Linked DNA regions of Homo sapiens. The protein of the gene in region 1 interacts with the protein of each later gene in a biochemical or structural test. Each region holds a gene or a part of one and is shown on either strand. Other genes may lie near its edges. The genes, in order: STAT3, PTPN1, PTPN2 and NMI.

What was found.
Region 2: of the proteins of STAT3 (region 1) and PTPN1, one has a biochemical effect on the other in vitro, tested with the Homo sapiens proteins (2 studies listed by BioGRID and IntAct).
Region 3: the proteins of STAT3 (region 1) and PTPN2 form a complex in vitro, tested with the Homo sapiens proteins (one study listed by BioGRID).
Region 4: the proteins of STAT3 (region 1) and NMI form a complex in vitro, tested with the Homo sapiens proteins (one study listed by BioGRID).

The regions. Positions count from the first base shown.
Region 1 is NC_000017.11:42,378,442-42,385,480, reverse strand, and holds part of STAT3 (signal transducer and activator of transcription 3), read left to right. Parts: intron 1-7,039. UniProt on the Homo sapiens protein: Signal transducer and transcription activator that mediates cellular responses to interleukins, KITLG/SCF, LEP and other growth factors. Once activated, recruits coactivators, such as NCOA1 or MED1, to the promoter region of the target gene.
Region 2 is NC_000020.11:50,506,429-50,513,411, forward strand, and holds the start of PTPN1 (tyrosine-protein phosphatase non-receptor type 1), read left to right. Parts: upstream 1-3,954; 5' UTR 3,955-4,099; coding exon 4,100-4,162; intron 4,163-6,983. UniProt on the Homo sapiens protein: Tyrosine-protein phosphatase which acts as a regulator of endoplasmic reticulum unfolded protein response. Mediates dephosphorylation of EIF2AK3/PERK; inactivating the protein kinase activity of EIF2AK3/PERK.
Region 3 is NC_000018.10:12,874,201-12,881,239, reverse strand, and holds part of PTPN2 (tyrosine-protein phosphatase non-receptor type 2), read left to right. Parts: intron 1-7,039. UniProt on the Homo sapiens protein: Non-receptor type tyrosine-specific phosphatase that dephosphorylates receptor protein tyrosine kinases including INSR, EGFR, CSF1R, PDGFR.
Region 4 is NC_000002.12:151,269,949-151,272,686, forward strand, and holds the end of NMI (N-myc-interactor), read right to left. Parts: intron 1,785-2,738; coding exon 1,678-1,784; intron 928-1,677; coding exon 745-927; 3' UTR 522-744; downstream 1-521. UniProt on the Homo sapiens protein: Acts as a signaling pathway regulator involved in innate immune system response.

The DNA.
Region 1 (7,039 bases):
CTGGAGTGCAGTGGCATGATCGTGGCTCACTGCAACCTCCTCCTCCCGGGTTCAAGTGATTCTCGCACCTCAGCCTCCTGAGTAGCTGGGATTACAGGTGCCCGCCACTACGCCCGGCTAATTTTTGTATTTTTAGTAGAGATAAGGTTTCACTATATTGACCAGGCTGGTCTCAAACTCCTGACCTCAAGAGATCTGCCCACCTCAGCCTCCCAAAGTGCTGGGATTACAGGCGTGAACCACCTTGCCTGGCCAACATATATATACCTTTTGCAACTTTGTCAGAGTTGCTATGAAGAATAAGTTGTATCTTGTTCACAGAAATTGCAGTCTACTGGGGGAGCTGATAAATGTTTTAACCATCCAATGTAACATGTTGTCATCAAAGAGATGGTGAGACTTTACACTTGTGCTAACAAGGTAGCTGTTCTACATAAAAGAACATACAGTACAGATGTAGAACTTTTCTGTTATCATAGAACGTTCTATTGGACAGTGCTAGGCTGAATGCTACAGATCTTCAGAGAAAGGAGAGGTTATGAGGCCTGGAGTTGTCTAGAAAGTCTTTTTGCCAAAGAGGGATTTCAACTGGGTCCCAAATAATGGGTGGAATTTGATAGGTGTAAAGAATTTGCGGTGGTTTATGCCTGTAATCCCAGCACTTTGGGAGGCTGAGGCAGGAGGATTGCTTGAGCCCAGGAGTTTGAGACCAGCTTGGGCAACGTGGTAAAACTCCCTCTCCCCTAAAAATAAAAAAAATTAGCCAGGCCTGGTGGCGTGGACCTGTAGTCCCAGCTACTGGTGAGACTAAGGTGGGAGGATCACCCAAGCCCCGGGGGTTAAGGCTGCAGTGAGCCGTGATCCCGCCACCGCACTCCAGCCTGGGTGACAGAGTGAGACCCTGTCTCCAAAAAAAAAAAAAATTCCTGGTAGCCCGGTAGACTAGGAGGGTAAGTAGGGGAGAAGTGATTACTTACAAAAGACATTGAATACAGGACCAAGGAATTTCAGTTCTGTTCTTTTGTAGGGGAAGCTTTTAAAACTTTCGGGGCGCCGGGCGCGGTGGCTCACGCCTGTAATCCCAGCACTTTGGGAGGCCCAGACGCGCGGATCACGAGGCCAGGAGATCGAGACCATCCTGGCTAACACGGTGAAACCCCATCTCTACTAAAAATACAAAAAAAAGTAGCCGGGCGTTGTGGCGGGCGTCTGTAGTCCCAGCTACTCGGGAGGCTGAGGCAGGAGAAGAGCGTGAACTCGGGAGGCGGAGCTTGCAGTGAGCCGATATCGCACCACTGCACTCCAGCCTGGGCGACAGAGCGAGACTCCGTCTCAAAAAAAAAAAAAATAAATAAATAAATAAATAAATAAAACTTTGGAGCCGAAGCACTGATGTTTAATCATAGAGTGCTTACTATGTGTTAGGCACAGGCCTGATTGCCTGATGCTGGTTAATTTGTACAAAGTAAATCAGTGCATATGCCCTCTGCCCTAGGGGAGTTATTAACTGGAGTCTGACATTGTACAAAGGTAGGTATCCTGACTAGTTTGATTTGGTACTTTGGGTGAAAAAAGTATAGTGTGCTTAAGTGCAGAAGTGTTTTTTGAGGATTTTTGATTGGATACAAACCACCACTCATATTTTATGTCTTTGGCACTTAAAAATTTCACCATAACTTTTGAGTCATTTATAAAAACCACTGAAAGAGTACTTGAGGGACATCCCCGAATCCTGAAGAACTTCTGGTGTTCTGGAGCAGCCTCAGTGAGATCCAGGAGGATGGCATTGCTGGGCTGGCCCAGCCCTTATTGATTATGGTGTAAAGAATTAATATGGTGGTTATATACTCTTTGTTAGACACCTTGGCTTACAAGACGTAAGCGTAAAGTGTAGTGCGCTTTAGTCAGTATGGCCACATGGTCCTTTGGTGGTAAATTGTTTGAGATGCCTCCAGTTTTTAAAAGGAGTAGCATATCGGGCCAGGAGCAGTGGCTCATGCCTATAATCCCAGCACTTTGGAAGGCCGAGGCAAGAGGATTGCTTGAGCCCAGGAGTTCAAGACCAGCCTGGGCAACATAGTGAGACCACTTTGTTTCTTTAAAAAAAAAAAAAAGGCAAAAACAGGCTGGGCATGGTGGCTGATGCCTGTAATCCCAGCGCTTTGTGAGGCAGAGGTGAGCGGATCACTTGAGGTCAGGAGTTTGAGACCAGCCTGGCCAACATGGTAAAACCCCGTCTCTACTAAAAATACAAAAATTAGCCAGGTGTGGTGGCACACGCCTGTAGTTCCAGCTACTCTGGAGGCTGAGCCAGGAGAATTGCTTGAACCTGGGAGGTGGAGGCTGCAGTGAGCCAAGATCCTGCCACTGCACTCCAGACTGGGGGACAGAGTGAGACATTCTGACAGTGCTACACTGAATGCTACATGTCTTCAGAGGAAGGAGAGGTTATGAGGCCTGGGAATAACATATGGAAGAATGAATTTCTGTTATGGTCAGTTCTCATTTGTCATGTTAGGATTACTGCAACTCTTACCCAGCCGGGTGTGGTGGCTCATGCCTGTAATTCCAGCACTTTGGGAGGCTGTGGGCGGATCACGAGGTCAGGAGATCGAGACCATCCTGGCTAACACGGTGAAACTCCGCCTCTACTAAAAATACAAAAAATTAGCCCAGCGTGGTGGCAGACGCCTGTAGTCCCAGCTACTCAGGAGGCTGAGGCAGGAGAATGGCATGAGTCCTGGAGGCGGAGCTTGCAGTGAGCTGAGATCGTGCCACTGCACTCCAGCCTGGGCAACAGAGTGGGACTCCATCTCAAAAAAAAAAGAAAAAAAAAAGGATTACCGCAACTCTTTAATTCAGATCAGCAAACATGTTGAGAGCCAGGTATTGCGTCAGGCAGGATCCAAGGATAATGAAATATTGTCCGTTTTCATGAAACTGGAGATGTTGCAGGGACCGAGGTGTGTGCTATGCCAGTATGGAAGTAGGACAGGGGAGACGACAGGGCAGTGAGTGGTTCAAGACTCTGGCTCTGAAGTCAAACAGATCTGGGACTGAATCCTGGATCTGCCACTTCCTAGTCAGAATCTGAGCCTCTATTTTCTTATCTGTAAAAGAAGATTATAACAGTGCTTATCTTGTAGGTACTGTTGACGATTCAATAAGATAATGTGGATAAAATGCTTAGCATAGTGCCTGGCACATAGTAAGAGCTCGGTAAATCTAAGTTCTTACTAAATATCCAAGAAAAGAGATTAATTCTTTTCAGGAGTGAGAGAAAGTCATCATTATTGAGGGGCTTTATCAGATGGGAACACCTGAATAGGGTTTTATAGGATGAATAGGAATTCTTTCCACGAAGTTGCGTTACAAAAAGTTGCATTCAAGGCTGAAGGAACATGAGGGTGCAGAGGCTTAAAACAGCCTTGTGTGTTCAGGGAGCTATAAGTAGAAGTTCTTAATTTAGGAGAACTAAACCAAGGGGAAAGGAGGCCAAGGAACCACAGTTCTTATCCCTTTTCTGTTAATAATTGGGTTTAAATGTCATTAAAATAAGTTATTTTGTCCTTTTTAGAAAAGTAATAACATGCTATTATAAAAAAAAAGACTTGTAGGAATATAAAATGTGTGTTTTACATGTATCCTGTTAATTGACTTGCTTTTATTCAGATTTTTTGCAGCCCTTTCTGTTTACCAGGTTATCTTGGAGACATATTTATTCCAAATTCCTTTTTTTTTTTTTTTTTGAGATGGAGTCTCGCTCTGTCGCCCAGGCTGGAGTGCAGTGGCGCTATCTTGGCTCATTGCAAGCTCCGCCTCCCGGGTTCACGCCACTCTCCTGCCTCAGCCTCCCGAGTAGCTGGGACTACAGGCGCCCGCCACCACGCCCAGCTAATGTTTTTTTTTTTATATTTTTAGTAGCGACAGGGTTTCACCGTGTTAGCCAGGATGGTCTCAATCTCCTCACATTGTGATCCGCCTGCCTCGGCCTCCCAAAGTGCTGGGATTACAGGCGTGAGCCAGCACGCCTGGCCTTCCAAATTCCTTTTAACAGCCTAGCAAAAGAATAATAAGGAAGGTAAATCTGCCCCTACAAGAAAATAATGCTTCGACGATCCGGCTTTCCTTCCTGCTACCCCCAGCCATAAGAATAAATGACCTTGCTCATCACTGAAATTTTACCTGACCTTTGAATTTTTAACTGCGTCAGCCAAAGAACTTATATTTTGAGTATTCCTAAGGTGATTGCTATTGTAGTTTTGAAACACTTGGTTGGTATGTTTGAGGGTTTCATGGTCCAAAGTTACTATAGCAGTTAAAAGAGTGGACTATCAGGTCAGACCTATTGGGCTTTAATCCCAGTTCTGCCTTCTCTTAGACCTTGGGCCTGTTGTTTTCACTTCTCTGGTTTTCAGTTTCTCTGTCCACAATTGTGGAAACGAGGTCCACTTGTAGAGTAATTGAGAGGATGAAGCAAGATGATGCATATCAAGTACTTTGCATAGTGCCGGGCAGACAGGTAACATTCAAGTGCTAATAATTACTATTATTACTATTTATTTTTTGAGACAGGTTCTCACTCTGTCACCTAGGCTGGAGTGCAGCGGTGAGATCACAGCTCATGACAGCCTTGACCTCCTAGGCTCAAGTGATCCTCCTGCCTCAGCCTTCGGGGTAGCTGGGGCTACAGGTGTGTGCTACCACCCTCAGCTAATTTTCTAATTTTTTTGAGTCAGGATCTCGTCACGTTGCCTAGGCTGAATTACTCTTATTAAAAACTATAATATCAGGCCGAGTGCGGTGGCTCACGCCTGTAATCCCAGCACTTTGGGAGGCCAAGGCGGGTGGATCACCTGAGGTCAGGAGTTCAAGACCAGCCTGCCCAACAGAGTGAGACCCCCCCCGTCTCTACTAAAAATATAAAAATTAGCCAGTTGTGGTGGTGGGCACCTGTAATCCCAGCTACTCGGGAGGCTGAGGCAGGATAATCGCTTGAACCCGGGAGGCGGAGGTTGCGGTGAACCGAGATCGTGCCACTGCACTACAGCCTGGGTGACAGAGTGAGACTCTGTCTCAAAAAAACCGAAAAACAAAAAGCATAATTAGGGTGGTAACGCTTATACATAGGGGCAGGTGGAATAAAACATAATTAGGAGGTCGGGCATGGTGGCTCACGCCTGTAATTCCAGCACTTTGGGAGGCCGAGGCGGGTCAGGAGTTCAAGACCAGCCTGCCCAACATAGTGAGACCCCGTCTCTACTAAAAATATAAAATTTAGCCTGTTGTGGTGGCGGGTGCCTGTAGTCCCAGCTACCCGGGAGGCTGAGGCAGGAGAATTGCTTTTGAACCCAGGAGGTGGGGGTTGCAGTGAGCTGAGATCGCGCCGCTGCACTCCAGCCTGGGAGACAGAGCAAGACTCCGTCACAAAAACAAAAAACAAAAAACTGTCATATCAAAAACTAAACTAAAATGGTAATATCTGTTAGATATTACAAAGTCAGGCAAATTATGATTCATGGCAGCCACTAATGACCCAAAGGAGAGAAAGAATAATTAGCAGATTCTAACCTAATGGGAAAAAAACTAAATGAATAGGGATGGGGGACTTACATTCTGTTAGAGGAAATTGAGGCTGTCATATAAAAGGAATAGGTAAGGCAAACTGTAAATTCCTGTTTACACAAATGCCCTTCTGATAAATCTCTGCATTGCCCACAGTCCATGATTACCTCTCCCTTATTTTAAGTAATATTTAACACATTAAAAATGGATTACCACCCAAGGAATTGCTCCCGACCCAGAAAGTGCAGGTAGTGTTGAAGGTTTGAGGGGAAGAGGAATGATTAGAGTTGGTTGTGTCTCAGGAAGAAGCCAACAGGAGGAACCTTATTTTGAGTCAGGTAAAGAAGGTGGGAGTGAGGAGGCATCCCGGTGGCCAGGTATGAAGCTGGGAGCTGATTGCTGCACATTACTCAGCTGAATTAAATGTGCCCTCACATCTGTGTGTGTGCGTACATGCAAATGTACATGTGTATGAGTTAGTTGGAGGGGTAGACCTTTATTTTCCTGTCCTGTAACTTTCCTTTGCAAACTAATCTGTATTCAGAACAGTGTTGCAGTTAAGAACCACCCAGCTTGTCCATGAAACAGGTTCTCTCACCCCATCTCCCCAGTTTTAGAGAAGGCAGGAAAGAAAAGGCAGTGCTTTTCTTTTTTCCTGGCCGTATGCGGGGCAGGAAGAAGCCAGCAGAGCTTGAAAGAGAAAGTAAACCTTCTGGGAAATAAACGGCTTGGCTTCCCTATTGTGGAGGAGGAGTGCAAATTATTAGGGGGATGTTTGGGTAGTTTTTGTAGAAGCCATTTCTGAAAACTGATTTGGATTAGTGAAGGTAAGCCCAATTTAGGAAAACCCTGCCCAGTCTGGTGTCAGCCACCTGTTTCCCGCTTTGTTTGATTGATTTGATTAGTTTGTGGTATTCTGACCTCTCATTTTTATTACAAGAGTTGGAAGATTTGAGTCTGAACTTGAGCACCTGCTTCGGTGAAAGCTTCCTAAAATGCATGTTTTTTCACATTTTTTCTCATGTTCATTTTGTTTTGCTTTTTAGCAAACACTTTTTCTGACAGAATCTAAAAGCATTAGACTTTTCTTGTTTTCCCCTTCTCTCCCCACAATGTAATCTTGAAAACCCAAATGTTAGCTGTGTAAATTACCTCTCCCGTAAACCAAACAAAGTGCAATATTGCATTGAGTTAGCATTGAAATAGTCGGCCTTTGAATTTTTTTCTACTTGTGGTTTAGACATAATAAATATTTCATCTCAGACTGACTTTCTCGACAAATCAGTTTTGCATTTGGGCCTCTTTTCATCAGTATGTTTAGGGAAAGCACATTTATTGAAACATTAACCAAAATGAAACATAATTAGGAGGCCGGGAGCGATGGCTCACGCCTGTAATCCCAGCACTTTGGGAGACCAAGGCATGTGGATTGCTTGAGGTCAGGAGTTCAAGACCATCCTTGCCGACTTGGTGA
Region 2 (6,983 bases), on another chromosome or scaffold:
CATTTATTTACTTACTTAGCTTGACATACAGGGACAGGAATGAACCAGCCCTGTTTTTGTTCCAGGATGCTCTCAGGATTGTGAGTTCCAGACAAACCAGAACCCAAAAAGTATAAGGGTTTAAGGGCGGGAGGAGCACAGGAGTCTGGACAGTCACTTAAAGGAACTAAGACTTCAATTAGGTAGCTTCCAAGTGTGGCAGCTCCCACAGTTTTCACTGGAATGGGCATTTTTGTTAATTTTTCCCCTATGGAATGCTCACTTTCTAAAGACACTGCTGATCAAGCTAATTGCATGTATTCAATAACATTTCATTTATCTCCTTTATTTGCTATTATTTAAAGATATGTAGTAATGACAGTTAATATTTATTGAGCCACTCAGTATACTAAGAGCATGATATGTACTCATCCAACCTTCACATCAGCCCTATGAGGTGGGCACTTTTATTATCTCTGTTTTACAAAGGAGAGCAGAGACTAATGAAAATTTGCCCAAGTTTGCACCACTAGTATTTATTCAGCTGGAACCTGGACCCACGAAGCCTGGCTCCAAAGCAGGCTCTGGAAACCAGGCTAGAATGCAGGTTTCCATACCAATGTGCAATGCTACTCTGGACAAGTAATTTTGTCTCTCTGTGCTTCAGTTTCCTCATCCATTTTTTTTTTTTAAGACAGAGTCTTGCTCTGTCACCCAGGCCCGAGTGCAGTGGTGTGATCTTGGCTCACTGCAACCTCTGCCTCCCAGGTTCAAGCAATTCTCCTGTCTCAGCCTCCCGAGTAGCTGGGTCTACAATCACACGCCACCATGGCTGGCTAATTTTTTTGTATTTTTAGTAGAGATGGGGTTTCACCATATTGATCAGGCTGGTGTCGAACTCCTGACCTCAGGCGATCACCCGCCTTAGCCTCCCAAAGTGCTGCGATTACAGGCATGAGTCACCGCACCCGGTCCCCCCCTCATCTAATTTTTTATTTTTATTTTAATTTAATTTATTGTATTTATTTATTTATTTTTTGAGATGGCATCTTTCTCCCGTCGCACAGGCTGGAGTGCAGTGGTTCAATCTCGGCTCACTGCAACCTCCACTTCCCAGGTTCAAGCCATTCTCCTTCCTCAGCCTCCCAATTAGCTGGGATTACAGGTGTGCACCACCACACCCATCTATTTTCTGTGTTTTTAGTAGAGACAGGCTTTCACCATGTTGGCCAGGCTGGTCTTGAACTCCTGACCTTAGGTGATCCACCTGCCTCAGCCTCCCAAAGTGCTAGGATTACAGGTGTGAGCCACCAGGCCTGGCCTATTTTTATTTATTTATTTTTTTTGAGACAGTGTCTCACTCTATCGTCCAGGCTGGAGTGCAGTGACATGATCATGGCTCACTGCAGCCTCAATCTCCCAGGCTCAAGTGATTCTCCCATCTCAGCCTCCTGAGTACCTGGGACTACAGGTGCACGCCACCACAGCCGGCTAATTTTTTTTTTTTTTTTTGAGACAGGATCTTGCTCTGTTGCCCAGGCTGGAGTGCAGTGGTGCAATCTCAGCTCACTGCAGCCTCTGCCTCCCAGGTTGAAGTGATTCTTGTGCCTCAGCCTGCCGAGTAGCTGGGATTACAGGCATGCACCACCACACCCTGCTAATTTTTGTATTTTTAGTAGAGTTGAGGTTTCACCATGCTTGTCAGGCTGGTCTCGAATTCCTGACCTCAAGTGATGCACCCACCACGGCCTCCCAAAGTGGTGGGATTACAGGCGTGAGCCACCACAGCCAGTCAGTTTTCTCGTTTATAAAATGGGAATAATAGCACCTGTATTGAAGGGTTGTTGTGGAGATTGAATGGGAATGTGTACTTAGAATTCCAGGCATAGTGCCTGCCACAAGCACTCAAGGAATGAGCTGGAGTTCAGCTGATAATACCAGGCAGTGTCTCTGGGCAACACGGAATGAAGACAATTCTCTCTTCCAGGTTTTCAAACCTCCTGGAATTCACAACGTCCACATGACATGCCAGGCCCAGAGGGGGATGGTTTAAACTGGAGCCTGCAGGAAGGCAACCTGACCAACCTGCTCATGGGTGCTTTAAGGATCATAGGTACGAGAATCAGCTGGAGTTGTTGGTGAAAATGCAGATTCCGGGTCTCATCCCTAGACCAAAGATATCTGAATCATTTGGCGATGGGTCCAGGAACCTGCATTATTCAACACACTTCCCAGGTGACCGTAAATGTCAAAAGACAAAATTACAACAAACTTAAACATCTTAATTGGCTTCATTCATGATTCTAGAATCGGGCAAGACTTCATTCCTCAAAATAGCACAAGTGTCCCAATGAGCTGAGCAGAGGAGGTTGGTTTTATAGACAGAAAAGGGCTGAAAAAAGCAGAAACAAAGAACAAAAAGCAGATTGGTCATTTCAAAGTTACTTTCCTTGTAAGGCAGGAACAGGGAAACAGAACAAGAGAGAAATAACTGATTGGTCGCATCGGGTTACTTCAGGTTACTTTTTGTTGTAAGGATTAAAGCAAAGGGAACTTCATTATGTTGATTAAAACGGTCTGCTTGGGAAATCAGGGTGTGTATCTCTCTTCTGATTTTGTGAAAGGTTATCAGTCTGATGATGTAGAACTTTAGCATGAGTGACTCCATTTTGATTTTTAGTCTAGTCTGTTGAGACCCTAATGCCAGAACTTTTTTTGTTTGTTTGTTTCGCTCTTGTTGCCCAGGCTGGAGTGCAGTGGAGCTATCTTGGCTCACTGCAACCTCTGCCTCCAGGGTTCAAGCGATTCTCCTGCCTCAGCCTCCCAAGTAGCTGGGATTACAGGCATGCGCCACCACGCCCGGCTAATTTTTTTTTTTTTTTTTTTTTTTAGCAGAAACCGAGTTTCACCATGTTGGTCAGGCTGGTCTCGGACTCTTGACCTCAGGTGATCCACCTGCGTCGGTCTCCCAAAGTGCTGGGATTACAGGTGTGAGCCACCACACCCAGCCCTTTTTTTTCAAGACAGGGTCTCTCTCTGCCACCCAAGGTGGAGTGCAGTGGCGCCAAAACAGCTCACTGCAGCTTCCACCTCCTGGGCTCAGGTGATCTTCCTGCCTCAGCCTCCCCAGCAGCTGGGCCCCACCACACCGGCTAATTTTTTAACTTTTAGTAGTGACGAGGTCTGATTCTGTTACCCAGGCTGGTCTGGAACTCCTGGCCTCAAGACATCCGCCTGCCTCTGCCTCCCAAAGTGCTGGGATTACAGATGTAAGCCACCGCGCCTGGGCTCCTATGATTTTTATTTAACATAATGCACCATGGAATTTGTGCTCTGCTTAGTTCAGTCTGAGCAGGAGTTCCTTGATACTTCGGGAAACACTGAAAATCATTCCATCCCCATCCATTCATTCCTGCAGCACCCAAGTGGAAATTCTGCGTTTCAGACAGGGACACTACCCTTAGAGAGCAGTGGGCTTCCCCAGCAGCGTAGTGAAACATGATACTCCTGAGTTTCATGAAAAAAGGGCAGACATCTGGCCAGAGCTGGGAGGCAGGAAATAGAGCACGGTGCCCTCCTCCCATACTCCAGCTTGGATTACTGAGGCTGGGGCCCAGGCCCTGCAGGAAAGGAGGTGCATGACTACTTTAAGGCCACTCACTCTGTGACTCAACGGGCCGGGTCGGGGCTGGAACTCAATGCCCTCCCGGGCCTGGAGAGCCCACGCGCCGTGGGCGGGGCTCCCGGGGTCGCCTAGGCAACAGGCGCGCGCCGCGCCCGAGCCCAGAGCCCCAAAGCGGAGGAGGGAACGCGCGCTATTAGATATCTCGCGGTGCTGGGGCCACTTCCCCTAGCACCGCCCCCGGCTCCTCCCCGCGGAAGTGCTTGTCGAAATTCTCGATCGCTGATTGGTCCTTCTGCTTCAGGGGCGGAGCCCCTGGCAGGCGTGATGCGTAGTTCCGGCTGCCGGTTGACATGAAGAAGCAGCAGCGGCTAGGGCGGCGGTAGCTGCAGGGGTCGGGGATTGCAGCGGGCCTCGGGGCTAAGAGCGCGACGCGGCCTAGAGCGGCAGACGGCGCAGTGGGCCGAGAAGGAGGCGCAGCAGCCGCCCTGGCCCGTCATGGAGATGGAAAAGGAGTTCGAGCAGATCGACAAGTCCGGGAGCTGGGCGGCCATTTACCAGGTGCGGGAGCGCCCCGGAGCGTGGCGGGCCCTTCGCTTAGGCCGCTTGAACATCCCCTCAGACCTCCAGGCCCCAGACTCCCTCTGGGTCTTGCCCTCTGCCTCGCTCCTACTGCTTGAGGATTCGATGGGACAGCGACGCACTGCGTCCCCCCACCCTTTGTCCCCGGGGCGGGCGTGTTTCTCGCCGCAGCGTCGGAGCCCCCTTCGATCCCCCACCTCCCTTCTGTTCTCCAGCTCGGGTGATCTCTCAAGCCGGGGGACCGCCGGTCTGTGCTCTCAACGCGAATCCCTCGCACCCCGACCCCGCCCCCTGCCTGTCCACTCTTTGTCCCCTGGGGTGATTTAGCACCCCCACTATTTCCTTTTCTGGAGTGGACCACCTCAGACTCTCTTCCTTTGTCTCCCTGGGGGAAAAGGTTACTCCCCCCGTCCCTCCTTCACATTTCCTTTCCCCTAGTCTCAGTGTGCGTCGAGTCCCAGAGATGACAGTCCCCTTTCCCCTTTCTGTTCATTCATTTATTGGATAGGAGTTGGCAAGCTTATTCTGTGCTAGGCACCGCTTAGGCATTGGAGGTGGTGTTTGCTAATCAGGACAGGCAAGATCCTAGCCTTAGTGGGGCCTAGAGTCGAATAGGGCAATCAAACACAAAAGCAAATAATTTCAGATAGTGACAGGTGCTGTGAAGAGAACGACTTCCTAACGGGGTACAGGGTGACTGCATAGAAGGCCGGCTGTCTTAGAGAAGGGGATCAGGGAAGGCCTGTCAAAGGAGGAGACATTTGCTTTGTGAGCTGAACCAAGAGGAGCAGAAAGCCGTGAGAATATGGGGCTAAAGAACCTTCTAGCCAGGAGGCCTGCGGTACCCACTCCATTGGGGCCATGATATTATTCTTTCAGGCAGGGACTCAGGAAGGTTAACGTTTTAACCCTCTCTAAAATAGCATCTTTCCTCAATGAGCAGCTTAGTCTTTGGTCGTGGCAGAGATGACCTTGTCTTAGGAGTCATCTCCTTGTGTGTTAAAAAGTTAGGAAAGGAGGGTTTCTCATATATCTATAAAACAAGTAGTTAAAAACACAAAGAGCTCTTCCTTTCACAAGCAGCTGAATAAGATACATACTCCCAATTAAATGTCATTGCGGGGGTTGTTAAGATTAACTAAAACCACACTTGCACAGTATCTTAAATAAGCGATATACAGAATAGAGAGATTTTGTTACTTGTGTAAAGGGAGACAGCAGATGATTCTGTTTTCAGCTTATAGGCTCAAAAGGCAAATTGTGAGATCCATCAGCTGTAGTATTAAAATCTATTTTGAGCTCCGCTTAGAAAGGAAAAAAGGTTTAAGCAGTTCTTTGGTATGCTTGACTAACAAAAGCCTTTTTTTTTGGCAGCCTTGATTTTCATGTGGATTTACATCAAGCTTATTTGACAGGATTCTTTTTATTTGGACTGTAGTGTGTATATTAGTTTCTGCTAGACTAATATTTCTAACCACTGTAATCTATATACTAATAAGTATGATTGATCAGTATATAAAATTTGTATGCCATATCTGGTCTCTGAATTAGCTGAATGAATTCCATAAGGGACTTTGAGACTGTGTAGACAAATTTTCTGCATCAGTTTAATGCAGTAGAGTCTAAAATGTCTTTAAATGAAAATTGTTGGTCTGAAGTGTTGGAGTTGATTATGATACACCCCATCACAGTGGAAGCATTGTGGAGAGAAGTCTTTTCCACTGAAATTGACTGAGTTGACAACAAGAAATACGTATTGTAACTTAGTTCTTAGTTGAATTTTATTTCTTACAATTTTAAGCCAGAGTGGGTTGACCTGTCACCCAAGCATGGTTAAAATTGTATTCAGCATGCAACTAGCATGGAGTGTGTCAGTCTTCAATTCATTTCCTTCATTGTTCTTAAGTTTTTCTGCCACAATTAAACCCCACAAGTTAGTCAAGGTGTTGAGATTTTCACTGCTTCTTAATGGATTGCCACATTCCCTGAGGTAGTTTCTTTTGGTCTTAGAGAATTGTCAGGGCCAGCTTTTCTCACCTCCACTGTATGGATATTTTTCTTTTCTAAGATCTTGAAATCAGAAGCTTTTCTCCTAAGTGTAAAAGTAGCTCTTTGTCATACAACTGTAGCGTTTTCTGAAACAGAGTTCAGATGACCTTGAGTCTAAAGTGGCTAACTTTCCAAGGTGTGTATCGCTTTACCAAAACCATTATTTTTCAAGGATTCAAAGAATGTGTTTACAATTGATAGAAAATGGAAGTTTAAAAAAATTAATACTTTATAGCATGTTGAAATGAGGGCAGCCTTATACAAAGTCATACTTTGAGCTTGCCTAGCCTATTGTGATCAGAGAATAATGTAATTTTTGCTTACAACTTGGTAAGCAGGTCAGTTATTCTAACTTATTTTCTGATTAGAACAAAAAGATGTAAAAACTTGAAAACTATTGGGAAAAGAACAAAGAGTGAAGAGGACTTTTGAGTGCTGAGGAATGTGGCAGCTTGGAAAACAAACTTTTTAGGCAGAGATTCTTTGCTAGGTCAGTTTGATAAAGTGAGCATAACCGTATTTTTAATCTTTAATGCTAATGAATAGCATAGATGCTAATAAGCATCTAGGTCTATAAAAAGTCAGCTTTGATAGTGTATATAGATGGCTTTAAACATTGTTTTCTAGCATTTAAACACTTTCAAATCATCCGGTTGCTTGATTGGGCCTAGCTGTCTAAGAGGAGAGAATGAGCCCAGATGAGGAAAAGAGATTGATTTTACTGAGCTAGAATGAGAGGAGAGAGGGTTGA
Region 3 (7,039 bases), on another chromosome or scaffold:
TGGTCTCGAACTCCTGACCTCAGGTGATCCGCCTGCCTCGGCCTCTCAAAGTGCTGGGATTACAGGCATGAGCCACTGCTCTGGGCTGATCATATTTACTTGTTAGCAAGATCGTTCTGACTGCTAGCAGACTGGATGAGGAAAGTGTAGGCACGCAGCACAGGGCAGTAGTCGGTTGGAGTAAACCTGAAGAGACATGATGAGCTTCTGTTAGGCAGTGGCAGGAGGGATGGAGGGGAGATACAGATTTGAAATGAAATGGTAAAGGGGTATACGTTATGTACAAGTTTGGTTTTGAAACTTTAATTCTGTTTGAGGTACCTGCGAGACACTGAAATGAAGCTAGTTGAATGTATAAATTTGGAGTTCGGGAGAGAGGGTCTGAGTAAATGTGATTTTGGAAATCATGAACACATGGGTGATATTTGAGGTCTTAGACATTGATGAGATCATCTAGGGAAGATACAGAGCGTTTGGAAATATCAAAGGCCAAGGACAGAATCTTGACAGACAACATTTAAAAGGATGGGTGGAGAAAGAGGAACTTGCAAAAAAGACTGGTGAGGAACAACCACAGAAGTGGGGAGGAAAGCAGTGGAGGGAGTTGAGGGTGAGCAGGGCCACCTGACAGGTAAGGGCCAGCCTGAGAGGGCCATGACATTGAGCAGCTAGATTAACAGATACCTTAAAGGGAGTTGTGTCAGCGGACTACACAAGACAGATACCTGGAGTTCAGGAGAGAAGGTAGGAGGAAATGCAAACTACCAAGTGTACACTGCTCTTTTTAGAAGCCCAACTTGAAGAAGTGGGGAGAGGTAGCTAAAATGAAGCAAGATTGTGTGACTTCTCACTTAAACCCTTGAACGGCTTTCCGTTGCTCACAGTGTAAATTCAGCCCCTCCTCCGGCTCACAAGACCTCATGGCCTGTGTCTCTTGCTTGATTTCCCCTATCACTTTCCTCCCTCTTTTCCACTGTGTTGTATTCTTGGAAGTGTGTGTGTCCATTCTCCCCTTAGGGCGTTTGTAAATGTTGTTCTCTTTGCCTTGGCACAACTTTCCCCCCTTCTCTTTCCTTTCTTGCTTAAACTGCCTCCTACTCATCCCTGAAGTCTCACTTCCTTGGCAGGCCTTCTTGACCTGCCCATGCTGGGTATGAGCCCCTGTTGCGTACTTCTTTAGCATCCCAAGACTTCCCCTTTCATAGCGGGAATTGGATGTCATACAGCAGCAAATGATTTCGGGAACACAATTTGCATTAAGCAAACCACTATCTTGAAAGTAACACAGCTTGAGTAGGAAAAAAGTGTTTAAGGTGGCTTTCTGCTTTGTTTAGCACAGCAGTGGGTGATGTTTCTGATAATGTTTTTGAAGAGTTGTGCTTTTTTTGGTAATGCTCATGGAGCTGGGAAAAGAAAGGCTTTGCTCTTGAGCAAAAACTGAGTACAACTAAAAGCTGGACTTGCTTAGTGGTAGGAGAACTTGATACCTTGTTGAAATTCTAGCGGGAAAAATGAATTTAGTATTTTGAGTCTGGAACTCTGGTCCCTTATTCCTTTTTGCTCCTTTTGAAAAGTGTCTTTTATTTCATGAGTTTGATAATAGGAGGTTTCTTAGAAATGAATTATTGGGTTGGAGCAGAACAGACTCTGTTAATCTGAGTTTATATTTTTTATTACTTCTTCAGAGTTTCATGAAGGCACTGCCAGTGCTTTGCACAGTATCAGGTGCTTAGTAAGCACTTGAAAATATGTGCTGAATGAATGACTTTTTACGAGGAAAGGGCAACTTGATATATTTATGTGATTGCAGGGATGAACCTAAAGAGAGAGGTGGAGGTTGAAATAGAAGGGATGATTGTTGGAGCCAGAAATCTTAGAAAGCAAGAGTCAATGGGACCAAGAGCACACAGGTGGAAGAATTGATCGTGAAAGAGTGCTGGCCAGGCGGTGGCTCATCCCTGTAATCCCAGCGCTTTGGGAGGCTGAGGTGGGAGGATCACTTGAGGTCAGGAGGTTAGGGCTGCAGTGAGCCATAATTGTGCCACTGCACTACAGACTAGGTGACAGAGTGAGATCCTGTCTCTAAAACAAGAACAGCAAAACAAAGGGTGCAGTTGGAAAAGTTTAATTTGGTCTGATTGTGTGAGGTTAATTCTGACTTTTTGAGTAATGTTCATGATCCCTTTTTGGCTTTTCCTTTTGTCACTGCTGATTGCTGTCTTCATCAGGCTGAGCTTTGAGAAAGGCAGAGAGAAGGAATGGAGTCTGTGTGCCTACTGAGGAAAAGACTAAAACTGGGGAATCGCAAAAGCTATGTTATGGGTTGTTTCTAAGAAGTGATGGCTCAGAAGGAATTTGGCTTATTTATTTTTAAATTCCTTTCTTTTTTAAAGAGTTCTCACTCTGTTGCCCAGTCTGGAGTACAAGTGCAGTGGTGCAATCATAGCTCACTGCAACCTTAAACTCCTGGGCTCAGGTGAGCCTCTCACCTCAGCCTCTTGGAAATTGGTTGATTAATTAGGGTTTATAAACAATGGAACTCCTGACTGACTTCATTTTTCTTTTTTTGAAACCAAGTCTTGCTCTGTCCCCCAGGCTGGAGTGCAGTAGTGTGATCTCAGCTCACTGCAACCTCTGCTCCCCCCAGGTTCAAGCAGTTCTACTGCCTCAGCCTCCCGAGTAGCTGGGATTACAGGTGCCCACCAGCACGCCCAGCTAATTTTTGTATTTTTAGTAGAAACGGGGTTTCACCATGTTTGTCAGGCTGGTCTTGAACTCCTGACCTCAGGTGATCCACCTGCCTCGGCCTCCCAAAGTGCTGCTGGGATTACAGGTGTGAGCCACCACGCCCAGCCACATTTTTCTTTTTCTTTCTTTTTTTCCTTTTTCTTTCTTTTTTTTTCTTTTTCTTTCTTTTCTTTTTGAGACTGGGTCTCACTTTGTCACCCAGTCTGGAGTGCAGTGGCGTGATCTCAGCTCACTGCAGTCTCGACCTCTTGGGCTTTAGACATCCTCCTGCCTCAGTCCCCCACGTAGCTGGGCCTGGCTAATTTTTTTGTATTTTTTGTAGAGACAGGGTTTAACTATTTTGCCCAGGCTGGTCTTCAACTCCTGAGTTCAAGCAATCTGTCCACCTCAGCCTTCCAAAGGCTTAGGATTACAAGCATGAGCCACTGTGCCTGGCCATTTTTCTTTTTTCTTTTTCTTTTTTTGAGACAGTCTTGCTCTGTTGCCCAGGCTGGAGTGCAGTGGCGTCATCTCGGCTCGCTGCAAGCTCTGCCTCCCAGGTTCACGCCATTCTCCTGCCTCAGCCTTCTGAGTAGCTGGGACTACAGGCGCCCGCCAACACTACAGGCGCCCGCCACCACGCCAGGCTAATTTTTTGTATTTTTAGTAGAGACGGGGTTTGACCGTGTTAGCCAGGATGGTCTTGATCTCCTGACTTTGTGATCCACCTGCCTCGGCCTCCCAAAGTGCTGGGATTATAGGCATGAGCCACTGCGCCTGGCCGCCATTTTTCTTTATTAGAAATTTGTAGTTCAAATATTGCTAGAGAACAATTTTTACCATTTGTGAGTCAGCTAATTTTTAGAAGTCAGATATCAAGTGCACACTGTTCTTCTCATACTTACAGCGGGGCAGCCAGTTAGGCAGGTGAATCAAAGCTGTCTTATTCTAAAACACTTCCCTTGCCTACTAGTTACACATTCTCCTGCCTGCTGTCTAATCTCAGTGCTTTTACATGGTTGCACAAACTCTGAATTCCCTTGAAGATTGGCTACTCTCTCACACCTTGGAGTCTTCATGTGTTGGATATACTCCATGCCTACCATATCTATTTGGGAAACATCTTCAAGACTAGACCGTAGTCTCCTTGGGCAAAGTTAAATGCTCCCCCTTCTCTCATTTCTTAGTTCTCTATATTCTTTTATTAGAATATGAACCACATTGTTTTGTAACTGTCTACTTGTCTGTTCTGTGTAGCTCCTTGAGGGTGGTCTTTTTTTTTCTTTGTTTTCCCACCACCTACCTACGGGACCTGAAACATGTTAGATGCTCAGTAAATATTCAGTAAACACAGGAAAACTGTTCCCTTTTAAAATGTCAGCACCTTAGTTTATTCCAAACCCCTCATTTATGGCTGAGGAAACACTGGGCCAATACAGTGTTGTGACTTATCTGATGTTACAATATCTGCTAGTGTCATAACTGGGACTCAAATCCAGTCCTTCTGATTCTCGTTTCAGCACTGCCCTAATTTACCCATGTGACTACCTGTAGTGCTTTCTTCTTATGATCTATTTGAGATCAGTGGCACAGAGGGAATCGTCTTAATTTTGATGGCTAGGAGGGAGTGGATGTGTTATAATAGGTAGGGTCATTTTGGGACTTGAGGCCTTTAAAACAGTGTCTGGGATCCAGGGATCAGACTTGAAAGGTATTTGCAAATCTCCTGAAACTGCTAAATTTTATGTACGTGTGTTCCCAGGTATTTCGTTTCTAGGTGATTCTGTAGCTTTTGTCAGTTTCTTAGTGGATTTGTCTGTGATCCCTCAAAAGGTAAAGACCACTGCTTGAAGGGAAAGCAGCCTTGGGATGGGTGCCCCAATGGGGAATGTATACCTAGAAATCATATTGTTTTGCCTTTGACATGTGTTTATAGATTACTGATATCTATAATTACGGAAATCCAGATAGTTGCGTTTGTCTCCTAGCTTTTCTAGTTGCCTCTTTTTTGATTTCTTGATTTTAACCAGAATCTTCTTTTTTTCTTGAGAAGGGGTCTCATTCCGTCACCCAGGCTGGAGTGCAGTGGCACGATCGTAGGTCACTGCAGACTCAAAACTCCTGGCTCAAGTGGTCCTTTGCCTCAGCCTCCCGAGAAGCTGGGACTACAGGCACACACCACCACGCCTGACAAATTTCTTCTTCTTCTTCTTCTTTTTGTTGTTGTTCTTGTTGGCCAGGCTGGTCTGGTCTTGAACTCCCGGCCTCAAGTGGTCTGCTCACCTTGGCTTCCCGAAGTGGCGAGATTACAGGCATGAGCCACCATGCCCAGCCCTTAACCAGAATTTTGTTTTGTTTTGTTTTTTGAGACAGGGTCTCACTCTGTCACCCAGACTGGAGTGCAGTGATGAGATCACGGCTCACTGCACAGATGCACGCCACCATGCTTGGCTAATTTTTTATGTTTTGTAGAGACAGGTTCTCACCATGTTGTCCAGACTGGTCTCGAACTCCCGGGCTAAAGCGATCTTCCGGCTTCACCCTTCCATAATGCTGGGGAGCCACAGTGCTTGGCCAACCAGAATCTTAAAAGCCCTTTTTACTTTTTCCAGATAGTTACTCTGCAGAGAATTTCTGATTCCCAGTTGGAGAACTGTTACAGCTCTCTCAGTCCCCTGCTGTTCTTTTAGCTACCTTGTCTTTGTCCTCTTACCTGTCCACTCTCTACTCCCCTTCTTCCCTTTGGTCTCCAAATAGTCCAGATAAACCAGAGAGATGGACAGATAAGGTCTGGGTACGCGAAATTAAAATTAACATAGTGTGCTCTTCACTTTCTTGAATAAACGTTACGTATGATTTGTTTCCCTTGGAAATCCTCATCTAGATTCTCTACTCTCTATTCCTTAACTTAATGCCCCATTAAGGTAGTTTTTTCTTAATGGAAAGCTGTTGAGAGTCAGAGGATATTTAAACCAACTAATAAACTGAACTTTTAATAATACCACCCTTACTTTGGATAAGAGTGATTAGCCATATACTAAATCCTCAATCAGTTTAGCATGTAAAATTTAAGACATAGCAGCTGATAACTGAGGAAGAGATACATTTCCACAGGCTAACTTTAAAGAATATAAGCTCTCACTTTCCTGAGTAGAAGAAAACTAAACTTTTCTGTTCTATGCTTTTTTTTTTTTTAATTTTTATTTTTATTGATCATTCTTGGGTGTTTCTCACAGAGAGGGATTTGGCAGGGTCATAGGACAATAGTGAAGGGAAGGTCAGCAGATAAACAAGTGAACAAAGGTCTCTGGTTTTCCTAGGCAGAGGACCCTGAGGCCTTCCGCAGTGTTTGTGTCCCTGGGTACTTGAGATTAGGGAGTGGTGATGACTGTTAACGAGCATGCTGCCTTCAAGCATCTGTTTAACAAAGCACATCTTGCACTGCCCTTAATCCATTTAACCCTGAGTGGACACAGCACATGTTTCAGAGAGCACAGGGTTGGGGGGTAAGGTCACAGATCAACAGGATCCCAAGGCAGAAGAATTTTTCTTAGTACAGAACAAAATGAAAAGTCTCCCATGTCTACTTCTTTCCACACAGACACGGCAACCATCCGATTTCTCAATCTTTTCCCCACCTTTCCCTGCTTTCTATTCCACAAAACCACCATTGTCATCATGGCCTGTTCTCAATGAGCTGTTGGGCACACCTCCCAGACAGGGTGGTGGCCGGGCAGAGGGGCTCCTCACTTCCCAGTAGGGGCGGCCGGGCAGAGGCGCCCCTCACCTCCCGGGTGGGGCGGCTGGCCGGGCGAGGGGTTGACCCCCCCACCTCCCTCCCGGACGGGGCGGCTGGCCGGGCGGGGGGCTGACCCCCCCACCTCCCTCCCGGACGGGGCGGCTGGCCGGGCGGGGGGCTGAACCCCCCACCTCCCTCCCGGACGGGGCGGCTGGCCGGGCGGGGAGCTGACCCCCCCCCACCTTCCTCCCGGACGGGGCGGCTGGCCGGGCAGAGGGGCTCCTCACTTCCCAGTAGGGGCGGCCGGGCAGAGGCGCCCCTCACCTCCCGGACGAGGCGGCAGGCCGGGCGGGGGCTGATCCCCCCACCTCCCTCCCGGAAGGGGCTCCTCACTTCCCAGTAGGGGCGGCCGGGCAGAGGCGCCCCTCACCTCCCAGACGGGGCGGCTGGCCAAGCGGGGGGCTGACCCCCCCACCTCCCTCCCGGACGGGGCGGCTGGCCGGGCGGGGGGCTGAACCCCCCACCTCCCTCCCGGACGGGGCGGCTGGCCGGGCGGGGGGCTGACCCCCCAAC
Region 4 (2,738 bases), on another chromosome or scaffold:
TTACCTCCAGTCATTCCCCAGCATCGAGCATGATAAGTGATGAGTCACTAACTTTGTATTTACCTCTCTCTCCATGCCAAGGTTTTCAAACTCTTATACCAATTGTTTCCATTGTAAGTGCAAAAGAAAGAAAAAGCTAGTCCTTTACGAGCTCTATTTGGAGAGGGGATGGCTTGGAAGGAATCAAGGGACACTTGGCACTTGGGTGAACAGAAATTCAAGAAAAAGATCACACTCAGCTCTGAGAACCTTTAGAGTTGTGGAGTGAAATGCTATGCACAGTGGTAAATGGTTGCTCTTGAAGTCCTTCGAATCTTCAGTTGAGTTTACAGGAATCACCAACTGCTGAATGTAACTGCCTTTGTTTTGGAAAATGTTAAGAGTCAAGTCTGCATATTGGTGGGCATGGGGCCACAACTGAATTGGCCCACAAGACCATAACAGGATGAGCCAGCACTGGCAGGGGACATCTGAATCACTTAAGGTTGATTTCAGCAGACATGGCACCAATACACATAATCTATAAACAAAACTTTTTATTACAGTGCACTTATTGTAGTTGAAAACATGCAGCACCATTTGAAACAAAGAAGATTCAGAAACATGGAAATAAGTTTTGTATCTAAACATAAATGGATGGTAAAAATTAAAGTTTTCATTTTTTAAGGAAAAGCATATTCATTTTTGTCAAACATTTACAGTAATCCGGGTTAAAAAGCTATAGTTTTCATGATTCTGTTAAGTCTATTCTTCAAAGTATGCTATGTGAGGTTGACCTAGAGAACACTTGACCACATCTACTTCTCCACCTCCATTCTTTGCCCGTTGAAAGTGAATGTTAATTAAATCCTCCACAATTTCTTCATCCATTTGAATGCCTTCCATTCCTGTCAGAAGCACTGTCCTCTTAGATGTTCCTGAAAATATCTAAGAAGGAAAAAATGATAAATAGAAAGATTTCTAAGAGCTTTGAATTACAAAACTTTACATTCATAATCTCTGCTTAATATTTTTTATTTTATCTTAGAAGAGACAAGAAATCTTAGGAAGATTTTCCAAGCAAGAGAATATCCAAGTCAGATCTGAGTTTTAGAAAGAGAACTCTGGTGGCATTATGGAACACAGAGGAAAGGAGGGATGCTCTGGGAACAGAAAGACCAGGTAAAGAGGTAGTCAGAAGTGGAGCTGGCAAGATTTAGTGACCAAATGAATGTTGGAGGTGAAGCAAACTGAAGAGTTAAGTATGAGTTCTAGCTTTTAAGTTGGTGGAGTAGGTAGATGGTGGTACCATTGGATACCTGAGAAGGAAGAGGAAAAGGGAGCAGGTCTGGGGTAAAGATAATGAGTTCAGAGAAAGTAGGCAGGAATTCTTTCTCATGCTCACTGACAGTAGACATATGAGAGAAATGCAACTATGTCTCCATGTACAAAAATAAAAATTGTGCCATTATCTGAGTAATTTCAGTTTTAAAAATTGTATAATAAAGTACAGTTTTGCATTAAAATGCTCCTTCAAAAGACAAACTCATTTTGCACCAAGCAAAAATGAAGTAAAGAAACCATTTTGCTATCCCTCATTGATAAGATGCATAAGTAACAGACTCACAACAACTTTATTTTTTGTGGGGTGGGTTTGGGCAGTGAGTTCTGAAAATGAGAGAACAGAGATGACTTTACCTGATACTTTTTCAAGTGTATTTCTGTGTATGGAGAAACAGTAACTCTATGGCAGGTTTGATTTATATAAAGAGGGTATTCTTTCTTTTTCAAAATCTTGTCAGCCACTAAAAGCAAAACAAAAACAATACTTGTCTTTTTTATATCATAAGCATTTTTAACCAAAGTTAAAACTTCCTTCAAAGAGAACACTATTACAGTAAATATTGAGTTAAAAGATTAATTTTTAAGAAATTCTAAAGCCCACTTTGAAGACTTCACAGTACATAATTTTGAAAACTACAAGACCAAACAATAATGAGGTTTAAAGCCTTCATTCCATCTTGAATTATTCACTGCAGTCAATCAATGCACAAAGGGTTGCAATGTCCTCAGACAGATCTACTTTGAGCTATAAAAAATACCATAGTCTTTTGCAGAAAGTAACCCACTCATCTAACAAGACTGGACTGTTTCCCAGTTTCTCAAAAGCTGTAAGTGAAAACTATGATTAGAATACTATATACATTTTTTTCAATATATTCAATAAACTGAAGTAATGATGTTAACCAAAGCAGGGAGGGGATTGAATGTCATCTAGAAAAACTGAAAGGAAATAAAAATTCATCAGTTTTCTACAACACAAAGAATAGTCTATTTTTTAGCAGTATTTTTTTCTCCTAGAGTGGTGAAAGGATGTGTGTCAAGACTGTAACATTTAACAAAAACAGTTCTTGGGAATATACAACCATGTTTTTTATGACTCTTCTCACTCATCTACCTTGGATCAGCAATATGGTACAATGATTAAGAGTGTAGGCCCTCATTGGCGAGAATATGGAGAAATTGAAACCCTGAGGCAATGCTGATAGAAATGTAAAATGGTACAGCCACTGTAGAAAACAGTATGACAGTTCCCCAAAATATTAAAATAGAACATGATATGATCCAGCAATTCAACTTCTGGGTATATACCCGAAACAACTGAAAGCAGGGACTCGGACAGATACTTGCTCGTTAATGCTCAGAGCAGTATTTTTCACAATAGGCAAAAGGTGGAAGCAACCCAAGCATCCACCAAC